Linked DNA regions of Homo sapiens. The protein of the gene in region 3 purifies or fractionates together with the protein of the main gene of each other region. This does not show direct contact. Each region holds a gene or a part of one and is shown on either strand. Other genes may lie near its edges. The genes, in order: ACOT1, EPB41 and CA2.

Evidence for each region.
Region 1: the proteins of CA2 (region 3) and ACOT1 fractionate together in Homo sapiens (co-fractionation; one large-scale study listed by BioGRID). This does not show direct contact.
Region 2: the proteins of CA2 (region 3) and EPB41 purify together in Homo sapiens (affinity purification with mass spectrometry, with the first as the bait; one large-scale study listed by BioGRID). This does not show direct contact.

Annotation. Positions count from the first base shown.
Region 1 is NC_000014.9:73,535,552-73,539,302, forward strand, and holds the start of ACOT1 (acyl-coenzyme A thioesterase 1), read left to right. Parts: upstream 1-1,591; 5' UTR 1,592-1,870; coding exon 1,871-2,327; intron 2,328-3,751. UniProt on the Homo sapiens protein: Catalyzes the hydrolysis of acyl-CoAs into free fatty acids and coenzyme A (CoASH), regulating their respective intracellular levels. More active towards saturated and unsaturated long chain fatty acyl-CoAs (C12-C20).
Region 2 is NC_000001.11:29,113,534-29,117,170, reverse strand, and holds part of EPB41 (protein 4.1), read right to left. Parts: intron 1,473-3,637; coding exon 1,374-1,472; 3' UTR 1,368-1,373; intron 353-1,367; 3' UTR 1-352. UniProt on the Homo sapiens protein: Protein 4.1 is a major structural element of the erythrocyte membrane skeleton. It plays a key role in regulating membrane physical properties of mechanical stability and deformability by stabilizing spectrin-actin interaction. Recruits DLG1 to membranes.
Region 3 is NC_000008.11:85,470,477-85,474,127, reverse strand, and holds part of CA2 (carbonic anhydrase 2), read right to left. Parts: intron 436-3,651; coding exon 317-435; intron 1-316. UniProt on the Homo sapiens protein: Catalyzes the reversible hydration of carbon dioxide. Can also hydrate cyanamide to urea. Stimulates the chloride-bicarbonate exchange activity of SLC26A6. Essential for bone resorption and osteoclast differentiation.

The DNA.
Region 1 (3,751 bases), on a different chromosome or scaffold from region 3:
ACTGCCTCCAGGGTTCACGCCATTCTCCTGCCCCAGCCTCCCGAGTAGCTGGGACTACAGGCGCCTGCCACCACGCCCGGCGAATTTTTTGTATTTTTGGTTTTTTTTTAGTAGAGACGGAGTTTCACTGTGTTAGCCAGGATGGTGTCGATCTGCTGACCTCGTGATCCACCCGCCTCGGCCTCCCAAAGTGCTGGGATTACAGGCGCGAGCCACCGCGCCTGGCCCCTTTTTCTTGTTAGAGACAGGGTCTTATCCAGGTTGGTCTGAAACTCCTGGCCTTAAGAAACCCTGCCACCTCAGCCTCCAAGTAAACTGGGATTATAGGCGTGAGCCACCTCACCCAACTTCCACTTCCCAGCTGTATGATCTTCAGAAAATCAGTTAAATTCTCTGGGCCTTAATTTACTACTACGGTTCTTGTAAGTATTAACAATTAGCTACTATTATTTACCTTCTTTAGTTCCTGAGACTTCTATGCACAGAATATACTTGATGTGTGCCACAGAACCTATACAAAGGTAATTACAACTAACAGGGAGTTGTATGATAATGACATGGGACATGGGACATGAGAGCATTTGGAAAGAGATAAAAAGGCTTACCTTGAGGACAGCCTTATTAGGAGCAGAGGCAAACACAGGTTTTGTGAGTTTGAAGCTTACGCATTTATAGGTTTCTCTAATTACCAAGATAGGAAATTATGAAATCAGGTACAAGGGCTTGGGAGGGGCCTAAAGCTTAAGTTTGATGAAAAAAAAAAACCACCTCTGGTTGGAACCAATAGCCTATGAAAAAGTAGAAAAAAGCCCAATGCATGGGGAGCGCCGGTAGTCCCTTGAGGTGTTTGAGAGGCTGAGGCAGGAAGATGGCTTTAGCCCAGGAGTTTGAGGCTTGTAAGTGCGCAGTGATGGTAAACCGCCGCTGTACTCCAGACTGGCAACGTAGTGAGACCCTGTCTCTTTAAAAAAAAAAAAAAAAAAAAAAAAAGATGAGAGGTAACACTTGCCTGACTGGGACAAAAATGAGAAACCAGTATAAGAAAATAATAACTATTGGCCGGGCGCGGTGGCTCATCGCCTGTAAATCCCAGCACTTTGGGAGGCCGAGGCGGGCGGATCACAAAGTCAGGAGTTCGAGAAATTAATAACTATTACCTCATTTGGCTATTTTTACACCTGTAAGGAATAAAGCTCAGAGGTCACACAGCTAGTAAGAAGCCAGCACCCTTCGATGTGGGAGTGATGTGGAGGATAGGCATATACAGAGAACACGAAAGCAAAACACCATGGTGCAGATTTTGAAAGAAAAGCCCTAAGATTAGTAATGAGTGTGAATTATTCAACAAAGTGATCAAAACCAACTCCAGTCCTGCATTCCTCTTCGCCATCAGGAGTTTGGAGCCTGGAGACTGCTAGCTGCCTGGTTGTTGTTGTTTTTTTTTTTTTCTGAGACGGACTTTCGCTCTGTCGCCCAGGCTGTAGTGCAGTGGCATGATCTTGGCCAACTGCAAGCTCCACCCCCCGGGATCACGCCATTCTCCTGCCTCAGCCTCCCGAGTAGCCGGGACGAACCAGTCCTGGCCCAGCCCATTCCGCGAGCCAGCAAGCTTCTGAAAAGCAAACCTAGGAAGTTGCTTTCCAACATAAAGTGGAGGTTTCAACACAGGAGACTTTAAGCAAGTTCCAGTGTGTCTATATTTGGTCTGGCTGATCGGCTGGACTCTGGCCTTCCCCGCTCACATTAGCAGACAGCTCTGCCCTAGTGGGCGTTTAGCCTGCGACGGCAGCCCGAGAGGAAGAGTTGGGCAGAGTTGCAGGGGTCTCCACAGCTGAGGCAGTTTGGCCGGATTATTTGGGTTCCTGCTCGGATGGCGGCGACGCTGATCCTGGAGCCCGCGGGCCGCTGCTGCTGGGACGAACCGGTGCGAATCGCCGTGCGCGGCCTAGCCCCGGAGCAGCCGGTCACGCTGCGCGCGTCCCTGCGCGACGAGAAGGGCGCGCTTTTCCAGGCCCACGCGCGCTACCGCGCCGACACCCTTGGCGAGCTGGACCTGGAGCGCGCGCCCGCGCTGGGCGGCAGCTTCGCGGGGCTTGAGCCCATGGGGCTGCTCTGGGCCTTGGAGCCCGAGAAACCCTTGGTGCGGCTGGTGAAGCGCGACGTGCGAACGCCCTTGGCCGTGGAGCTGGAGGTGCTGGATGGCCACGACCCCGACCCCGGGCGGCTGCTGTGCCGGGTGCGGCACGAGCGCTACTTCCTCCCGCCCGGGGTGCGGCGCGAGCCGGTGCGCGCGGGCCGGGTGCGAGGCACGCTCTTCCTGCCGCCAGGTGACTCACCTCCGCTAATTGTTCCCCTCTGCCCATCCCTGTTCCTGCGCTTTCCACTGTGTGTGTGTGTGTGTCCCCTTCGCCCCGCCCCGCTCTTTTCGCTTGTGTGTGTGTCCCTCCTCCCGCCCCACCACCACCACCCCGGGCTATGTTGCCCAGGTAGGTCTTGAACTCCTGGACCCAAGCTATCCTCCCGCCTCTGCCTCCCCAAGAGCTAGGATTGCAGGGTGAGCCACTGCGCCCGGCCCTTTGAGGGGAGTTACACTTATTTTTTTATTTTTATTTTTTTTCGTCCCTGCGCTTTTCATACGGAGAAAGGATGTAGCTTCCAACATTCCGGAGGTTAGTGTAAGGAGACAGGAATGGAATGGAAAGTTGGTTGGGGAATTGCCCCTGCCGCTCCAAAACTGAGAGGTCCCTCAAACCTAGTGCTCAGTTAAAAGACATTGTAAGGGCTGGGCGCGCTGGCTCACGCCTGTAATCCCAGCACTTTGAGAAGCCGAGGCGGGCGGATCACGACGTCAGGAGATCAAGGCCATCCTGGCTAACACGGTGAAAACTCGTCTCTACTAAAAATACAAAAAATTAGCCGGGCGTGGTAGCGGGCGCCTGTCGTCCCAGCTACTCGGGACGCTGAGGCAGAAGAATGGCATGAACCCAGGAGGCGGAGTTTGCAGTGAGCCAAGATCGTGCCACGCACTCCAGCCTGGGCAATAGAGTGAGACTCCGTCTCAAAAAAAAAAAAAAAAAAAGGCATTGTAAGGAAAGAGAAAAGACACATAATATTAAAAACAAACAAAACAAAACAAAAAAAACAGGCCGGACGCGGTGGCTAACACCTGTAATCCTAGCACTTTGGGAGGCCGAGGCAGGCGGATCAAGAGTTCGAGACCAGCCTGGCCAACATGGTGAAACCCCGTCTCTACTAAAAATACAAAAATTAGCCAGGTGAGGTGGTGCACACCTGTAGTCCCACCTACTCGGGAGTCTGAGGCAGGAGAATCGCTGGAACCCTGGAGGCAGAGGTTGCAGTGAGCCGAGATCACGCCATTGTACTCCAGCCTGGGGGACAAGAGTGAAACTCCATCTAAAACAAAAACAAAAACAAAAAACAAACAACAACAACAAAAAATTTTCAAGTAGTTTCAATGTTCTTATTTATGTATGGACCAGGAAGTCACTTTTTTTTTTAATAAAAAGAATTCCAACTGGTTTTCTCACTGTATTTCCATGGCAGCTAGGAGGTGCCAGGTGGCTGGGCCTGTGACAGTGCAGAGGTTTTGGTGCCTGCCCGCCCACCATTGCTCCAGCTGCAGCTGCTGCCCCCTGCAGGGCCTGTTCGTTCCTGCTGCCTAGCTCCCTGCTGGCTGGCTATGATCTCCGTCCTGTTACCATTCCAGGAGAGCAGCCACCTCCCTGTGCAT
Region 2 (3,637 bases), on a different chromosome or scaffold from region 3:
GAATTCCATGGACCCTGTCAGTGTCTGTTGGGGTTGGAAATAAATGGGCAGAGAGGCTAGGCTGAAGGGGTTACAAACCACCCAATTAAAAAAACCCCAAAACTCTTAAAACAGTCTATAGAGTGAAAAGTTGAACAATTCTGATATCCTAATATAGAAAAAGCTCTTCAAAAGGATCAATGAGATCTAGAAGAATCTCTTGGTATAAACTCCCAATAGAAACTGAAATTAATTTTCTGGTGATTTAGAATAATCTTGAAAGTCTGAAGTCTGACTATGGCAGGTTAGCTTCTTTATCATTTTGCTGGTTTCTCTTGGATGGGAGAAGGGCAGAGTTGGGGTAGGTTAGTTCCTAGAGAAAACAAAGAAGCAAAATTTAAAATCCTGCAAAGGAAAAAGCTTCCTAGTCCCATTGCCAAGTTCCTGTGGCCATCAGTGACAATGGGGATGTGAGCAGGTTTACAGGGCCTGGTCCCACCTAGTGAGATTGGTGGCTTCTTCAAGTCTTTTTAAAATTACTTTTAGGCATGAATTTATCTGGATCCCTGGTTCCCAAAAAGCAGCTTCCCTGCTCCCAGCTCTCTACTCTGGTCTCAGAGCTTCAGCCATTACCTCCCTGCTCTGCATGCCCACCCATCTCCAGACAGCCTGATCCTGCTCTTCTTGGTTTTTTCTCCTCTGGCTTTCCCAGGTTCTGGCTCAAAGATACCTGTGACTGGCCAGGCGCGGTGGCTCATGCCTGTAATCCCAGCCCAGCACTTTGGGAGGCCAAGCCAGGTGGATCATTTGAGGTCAGGAGTTCGAGACTAACCTGGCCAACATGGTGAAACCCCGTCTCTACTAAAAATACAAAAATTAGCTGGGCATGGTGGCACATGCCTGTAGTCCCACCTTCTTGGGAGGCTAAGGCAGAATTCCTTGAACCCGGGAGGCGGAGGTTGCAGTGAGCTAAGATCATGCCACTGCACTCAAGCCTGGGTGACAGAATGAGACTCCGTCTCAAAAAAAAAAAAAAAAAAAGAGAGACCTGTGACAGCAGCAAGCAGAGCAGTAGAGAGAAGAGAGGGGGAAGGTGAAGTGGATCTCCAGCAGGATGCATGAAGACTCAGAGGGTAGCTGGGGGCTTATATCCAAGTTTGGGTCCCTCCTCTTACCCAATAATGCTGGCACTGCTACAGGCTGCTTTAGTTGGAGCCAAATACTTAATTTCCTATATCTCCCACATCAGCCTCTCGTCTGCCTTTATCAAGTCCCAGGGTGAACACCTCTTTGTGGGGATGGGCTCCCAGTGTGTCCGAGGGTCCCATCCAGAGCCCTCTCAGGCTGGGACTGTGGGCACCCTCAGCCCCAGCAGGAACGCCCAGTACCTGAGCTCACTCATCAGCAATCTCGGTCTCCTGGTGGACGACCACCTTGGTCACTGACATGTCTGGGTGCTGCTCCTTTGCCTCCTTGATGGCTTGTACAAGGACCTACAAAAGACAGAAACAAGGGCAATGAGGCAGAAAATAGCCTGATGGCGAAGGAAGGCAGTGGTCATCATTTCTCTGATGTTCTGACAGATCCAATACTCCTGTCTGCAGTACCAGGGCAGCTTTAGGCTAAGCCAAGCTGATAATTACCTTACCCACCCTATCCTGCATAGGGAGGCTTCTGGACTGATAACACAGGGACAGGGAAGGTTAGCGCTGTCTTCTAGGAACTGGAGAGGGACTTCGGGGGTCATAGCTGTATCTGTTATATGATCCTTTATTTTTTTTTTATTTTTTGTTGTTGTTGAGATGGAGTCTCGCTCCGTCACCCAGGCTGGAGTGCAATGGTGCAATCTCGGCTCACTGCAACCTCCGCCTCCCAGGTTCAAGCAGTTCTCCTGCTTCAGCCTCCTGAGTAGCTGGGATTACGGGTGTGTACCACTACGCCCAGCTAATTTTTGTATTTTTTGTAGAGATGGGGTTTCACCATGTTGGCCAGACTGGTCTCGAACTCCTGACCTCAAATGATCCACCTGGCTTGGCCTCCCAAAGTGCTGGGATGACAGGTGTGAGCCACTGCACCTGGCCTATATTATCTATTATACCTATCTATTATCTATCATTATACCTGGAGGGTCTGAGAGGATTCACTCAAGATGTGAATCTAAAGGACAAAACAACATCTGTGTTCAGCATGGGTAAGTGGCAAGTTCAGGACGGGAGAGGAAAGTAAAGAAGTGTGCAAGAAAAAGGAAGAGATGTCCTTGGCCAAAGTAGAAGAAAGGAAGGAAGAGGACAAGGGACTGTTATATGCCATGCACTAGCCTAAGTACATTACTTATTACTTAAACTCTATTAAGTTATAATTTATTAATAACTATATTGTTATTAAGATAATAACTATTATCATTACTTTTTACTTAAACATGACAACTTAGTGCATTAAGGTAATGTAATTTTTTGCATTTTATAGGTGAGGAAACTGAATTTCAGTAAAGAGCTTACTGTTTCATAGCTAGTAGGTAGTGAAACAGGGACTTTTTTTTTTTTTTTTTTTTTTTTAGACGGAGTCTCACTGCCCAGGCTGGAGTGCAGTGGTGTGATCTTGGCTCACTGAAACCTCTGCCTCCTGGGTTCAAGCGATTCTTGTGCCTCAGCCTCCCAAGTAGCTGGGGTTACAGGTGTCCGTGACCACGTCTGGCTAATTTTTGTATTTTTAGTAGAGACAGTGTTTTGCCACCTTGGCCAGGCTGGTCTCGAACTCCTGACCTCAGGTGATCCACCTTGCTCGGCCTCCCAAAGTACTGGGATTATAGGCGTGAGCCAACGCACCCAGCCGTGCAATAGGGATTTTAACTCAAGTCGATCAGACTTTCCTCTTTACCACACTGTTGTTTAGTTTCTGAGGGGGTCCCTGTTTGAGGATCTGGAGGAGCTTTGATTACTTTAGAAAAGCTAAAGAGAGCAGAGGGAAAGTCAAAAGAGCAAAAACACCATCCTCTTTGGGCTGCAGTCTCTGAATTTGCAGGCTCCCCTATGGAAAAGGACTCAGCTAGAAATGACCAGCTGACTACTCACCTGGCTCTTAAGAACCATCTCTAGAAGGGGCAAGGGAAGAAGGAAAACCCTCTTCTGGTCTCCTGGCTCTATGAATGGCATTCTTAGAACTACCACCTCTGTGGGCCCCTGACCATCCTCCCTGATCCTGTTTGCCCAACCCATCTGCTCACACCTCAGGCCCAGCTCAAGTCTTCTCTTTGTGACTCTGCCTCCGCCCACCTCTCTATGAAACCTGCTGCTCCACACTGCTTCTCCTTAACAGTTCTTAAAGTGCCTCCCTCGCCAGCCAGAGTGTACCATAGCTTACCCCTTCCATGCACTCTCAGTAACTAGAAAACCTGAGGGACACTGGAGCATCTCTCTGAGCTACCAAGTGTGTTTGGCCCTTATGACCCTGGAAGAAACCTGTGATCATCCTTATTTTACAGATGGTAAAACTAGAGCTCAGGTTGGTAATATAAGTTGCTCAAGGACATATAACCAATTAGGTCGCAGAGTCAGGATTCAGCCCAAGTCTGTCTCACTCCAAACCTCAAACACCTTTCACCGCATTGCTTTTGCTGTCTAGTGCAGACTGAGCACGTAGCAGGGGCTCAGATCACACC
Region 3 (3,651 bases):
TAACTCTAAGACAAATAAATGTACAGTTTTGACAGAAGGCACACATTTTATTTCTAAATTTCTGTTAAAACAGGATCCTCCAGTTTGAGTCCGTTTACTTTTTGCAAATGGTGGAGTTGGAGACAGTAGAGAAAGTTTTGCAGCGTTAAGTATGATGTCACAATTAAAGGTTATAAAAAGCAAATGTGAAGGTCCTTTGTAAAAGAAGTGGTTCACTGGGCGTGAGTTGAATTTACAAATTAAGCTTTTGAAATTAATGCTAAATATCAACTTATAAACATTTTTCCCTGGAAAGAAAAAAAAAAGTATATCTTACTTCTGCAGCATATTTCTTTTTATCCACAGTATGCTCTGAACCTTGTCCATCAAGTGAACCCCAGTGAAAGTGAAACTGAATCAATCTGTAAGTGCCATCCAGGGGTCCTCCCTTGAGCACTAAAATTAAAACATATATATATATGTAACATATATGTATGTATCTGCATACACATATATACATAGGTATACACACATACATACACACACATGAAACACATGCCTAAATATTACAATCTTAATTCTGTTTTACAGTACTAAATGTTTGCCTTTAATCACATTTTACTCTGAAAATTCAATCCAGAGTCAAGTTTAGTCTACGGTGCTGAACAAAATCACTTTACCTGTTTTTATTCCTCACATGCGTTGTCTGGAGAATGGATGTTTTTCACATCTTTCTTTCTGAGCATACTGATTCCTTTTTCTGGGTTTGTTTTAGAGTCATAGATTCAGGTCCAGAGAGAGAAAATTCTAAGTGAAACTAATAATCTGTGAAACATTTAGGAAGTGCCCATGCAGCTACTGGCCAATAAATTGGTCTGCTACACACACTTGCAAACGTGAGACCCTCTCTTCCACCAAGGCCCGATTGCTGCCATACAGCCTGCTTTGCTAACCTCTGATACCAGTTCTTAGACACCCGAATTTGTGAAATCAGTATTCCATTGATCTTAACATTGCAAAATCCAATTATCCTTATATAGGCTTCCCAAATTCTTTAGAATTTAGACTCTCACTGCTGCTGGCTAGCTTTGTTCCCTTAATTTTTTTTATTATTTATTTATTTATTTATTTATTTATTATTATTATTATTATTTTGAAACAGAGCTTTGCTCTGTTGCCCAGGCTGGAGTGCGGTGGTGCGATCTCGGCTCACTGCAACTTCCGCCTCAAGCAGAGTTCAAGCGATTCTCGTGCCTCAGCCTCCCGAGTAGCTGGGATTACAGGTGTGCACCACCATGTCCAGTTAATTTTTGTATTTTTAGTAGAGGCAGAGTCTTGCCTTGTTTCCCAGGCTGGTCTGGAACTCCTGAGCTTGAGTAATCCATCCACCTCGGCCTCCTAAAGTGCCGGGATTACAGGCATGAGCCACCGTGCCCGGCCGAAAATTTTTATTAAACCTCTTTGACCTTAATTTACTCATCTGTGGACACACTAAATCATTTACTATTTCACTAATAATTTATGGATCATCTTCTATATGCAGTGTAATGTGCTCTATTATCTCCAAGAACTTAAAATTCTAACTTGATAACTATTCCACGATTCTACTATTCTGGCATTAATGTAACTGCATTAAGCAAAATCAGTAACAAAAATCACATCCATCGGCTACAAACTATCTGTATATAATTAATAAGTTGCGTCTTGACAGAGGATTAAAATAGTGTGAAATCAGTCTTTCTTCCATCCACCAAGAAACTCTGTGCCTAACTTTGTATGTATTAATGGGATTTAACCAATATATTCAAAAGCTTTTAAAAGTAGTTTAGTTCTACAATTTAAATTTTATTTTTCTAGTACTGGGAATTAAACATTTGTTGCTATAAGTGTATTTTATTAGCTTTACTTTATAATTCCATAAAATAATGAGCCCAAATTTACTTTGGCATTGCAGAACAAAGGGATAACTTCTGTACAACAAGATTTGTTCATGAGCTTCACCTAAATATCCTTACATGGTAGCAATATCCATTCATCTATTCAAAGTGAAAGACTGCTTTGAAGATATTTAAGCAGTGGGGTCTTTCTGTGGTTCCTGATACAACCTCTGGCTGCCAGATCTGCTTTACAATAGGCCAGGAGAAAAAAGGAAGAATGAAAACAGAAAGAATTATAAATGGTGTTATGTTAAAGATCTGCTAAGAAATATGAATTTGGATGTATTCTGACAAAGTCACATCTCTTGGAACACAAAAACAACTTATTACAACAGTTTGTTTCCTGACAATTCTATAAGGAAATATTAGCCTCTAATTCTAGACTTTTTTAAAAAAGAATGAAATAATTCCCTTTTTTCATAATAATATATAAAAATTAAATATATGTTTATGAAATAAATTAATACTGAAAAAAATCCTTTATAATAACTCTTTAAAGCTAGCAACCAACTGGCTGATAATAAGAAGCAAATGTCATTTGTCAAATCATTAACTCTACCAAGTGGTAAAACTAACTAACTAAAACCATACTAAGAATCTGAGATAACCAATTTTCTAAATGTATCTTCTTTCCCCCCAGTGAAGAATCATAGCAGGATCTTACATTTTAAGGAGAATAAAGTTTATTGCTGTTTCTTATTCTTTCTCTAACAAATCTTAAAGTTTCATCTTAATTTGTTTCTAAAAACATTTAGAATTAGGCAAGAGTGTGTGCAAACCTTTAGTAAACAATACTTGCTAACAGCTAACACTAAAAAAAAAAAAAGATAAAGTGCTCTGGGCTCAATGATTAAACACATTCAGTGCTAATCTGTTATCACCAGATACCTGTTTTAGCCCCTGTTAAAATAAAACTTGTTCCTATGAAGATTAGAAACCCACTGTAACTAGAAAATGTTATTAAATCCTTAAAGTTTACTTGCTACAGAAGGCAGCATTTCTGGCAAACTCTTAGCATGGAGTTTAGTCAATGAAGTCCTTCAAAAACATTGTTATAATAAATTGCCATAAACTCAAACTTTTTATTTGAGAAACATAAAACATAATATCTTGGTTTAAGTTAGGGACTTTATGCTATATTCTGGATCTACTTATTTATTTAAATGACTACATGCCATTTTCTAAACTGTTGCAGTTTAAAATGAAATCTATTTTCTAATGTAAAAATAATTTTAAAAAATAGCAGAAATTGCTAACTGCCTATTTTTTCTCTGTAAAATCCAGCCATGGCAGTGGTGCTTTAAAGAGTCAATGATTCATTGTACCCCAGAAATGGGTTCTGTGAGGGATGGAGACATAAATACAGTTTTCTACTCTAATGTTTTTTTCAAGACCCCCCCCAATTTAATTTAAATTCAAATCTCAACACCAAGAGCTCCAGCCAATTTTAATTTTCATGATTGTCATCAATTATACATACTCTGTATATAACACAAAACAAGCACTAAGTATAATGTTATAGAATAATCTTTCTTCCTATACATATTATTTGAGGAAATTATATAAATTACTTTTTGAGAAAAATAAGAAATCCAGTAATATTGAAATGAATCACATTACTTATACAAATTAAAAGCTGAACATTTAATATTTTTTAATTTTTTCTCCCTAATCACTTAAACTAAATTAAGATGCACTGGAGTAACAGACTAAAGACCGTAATGAATGTCAACAG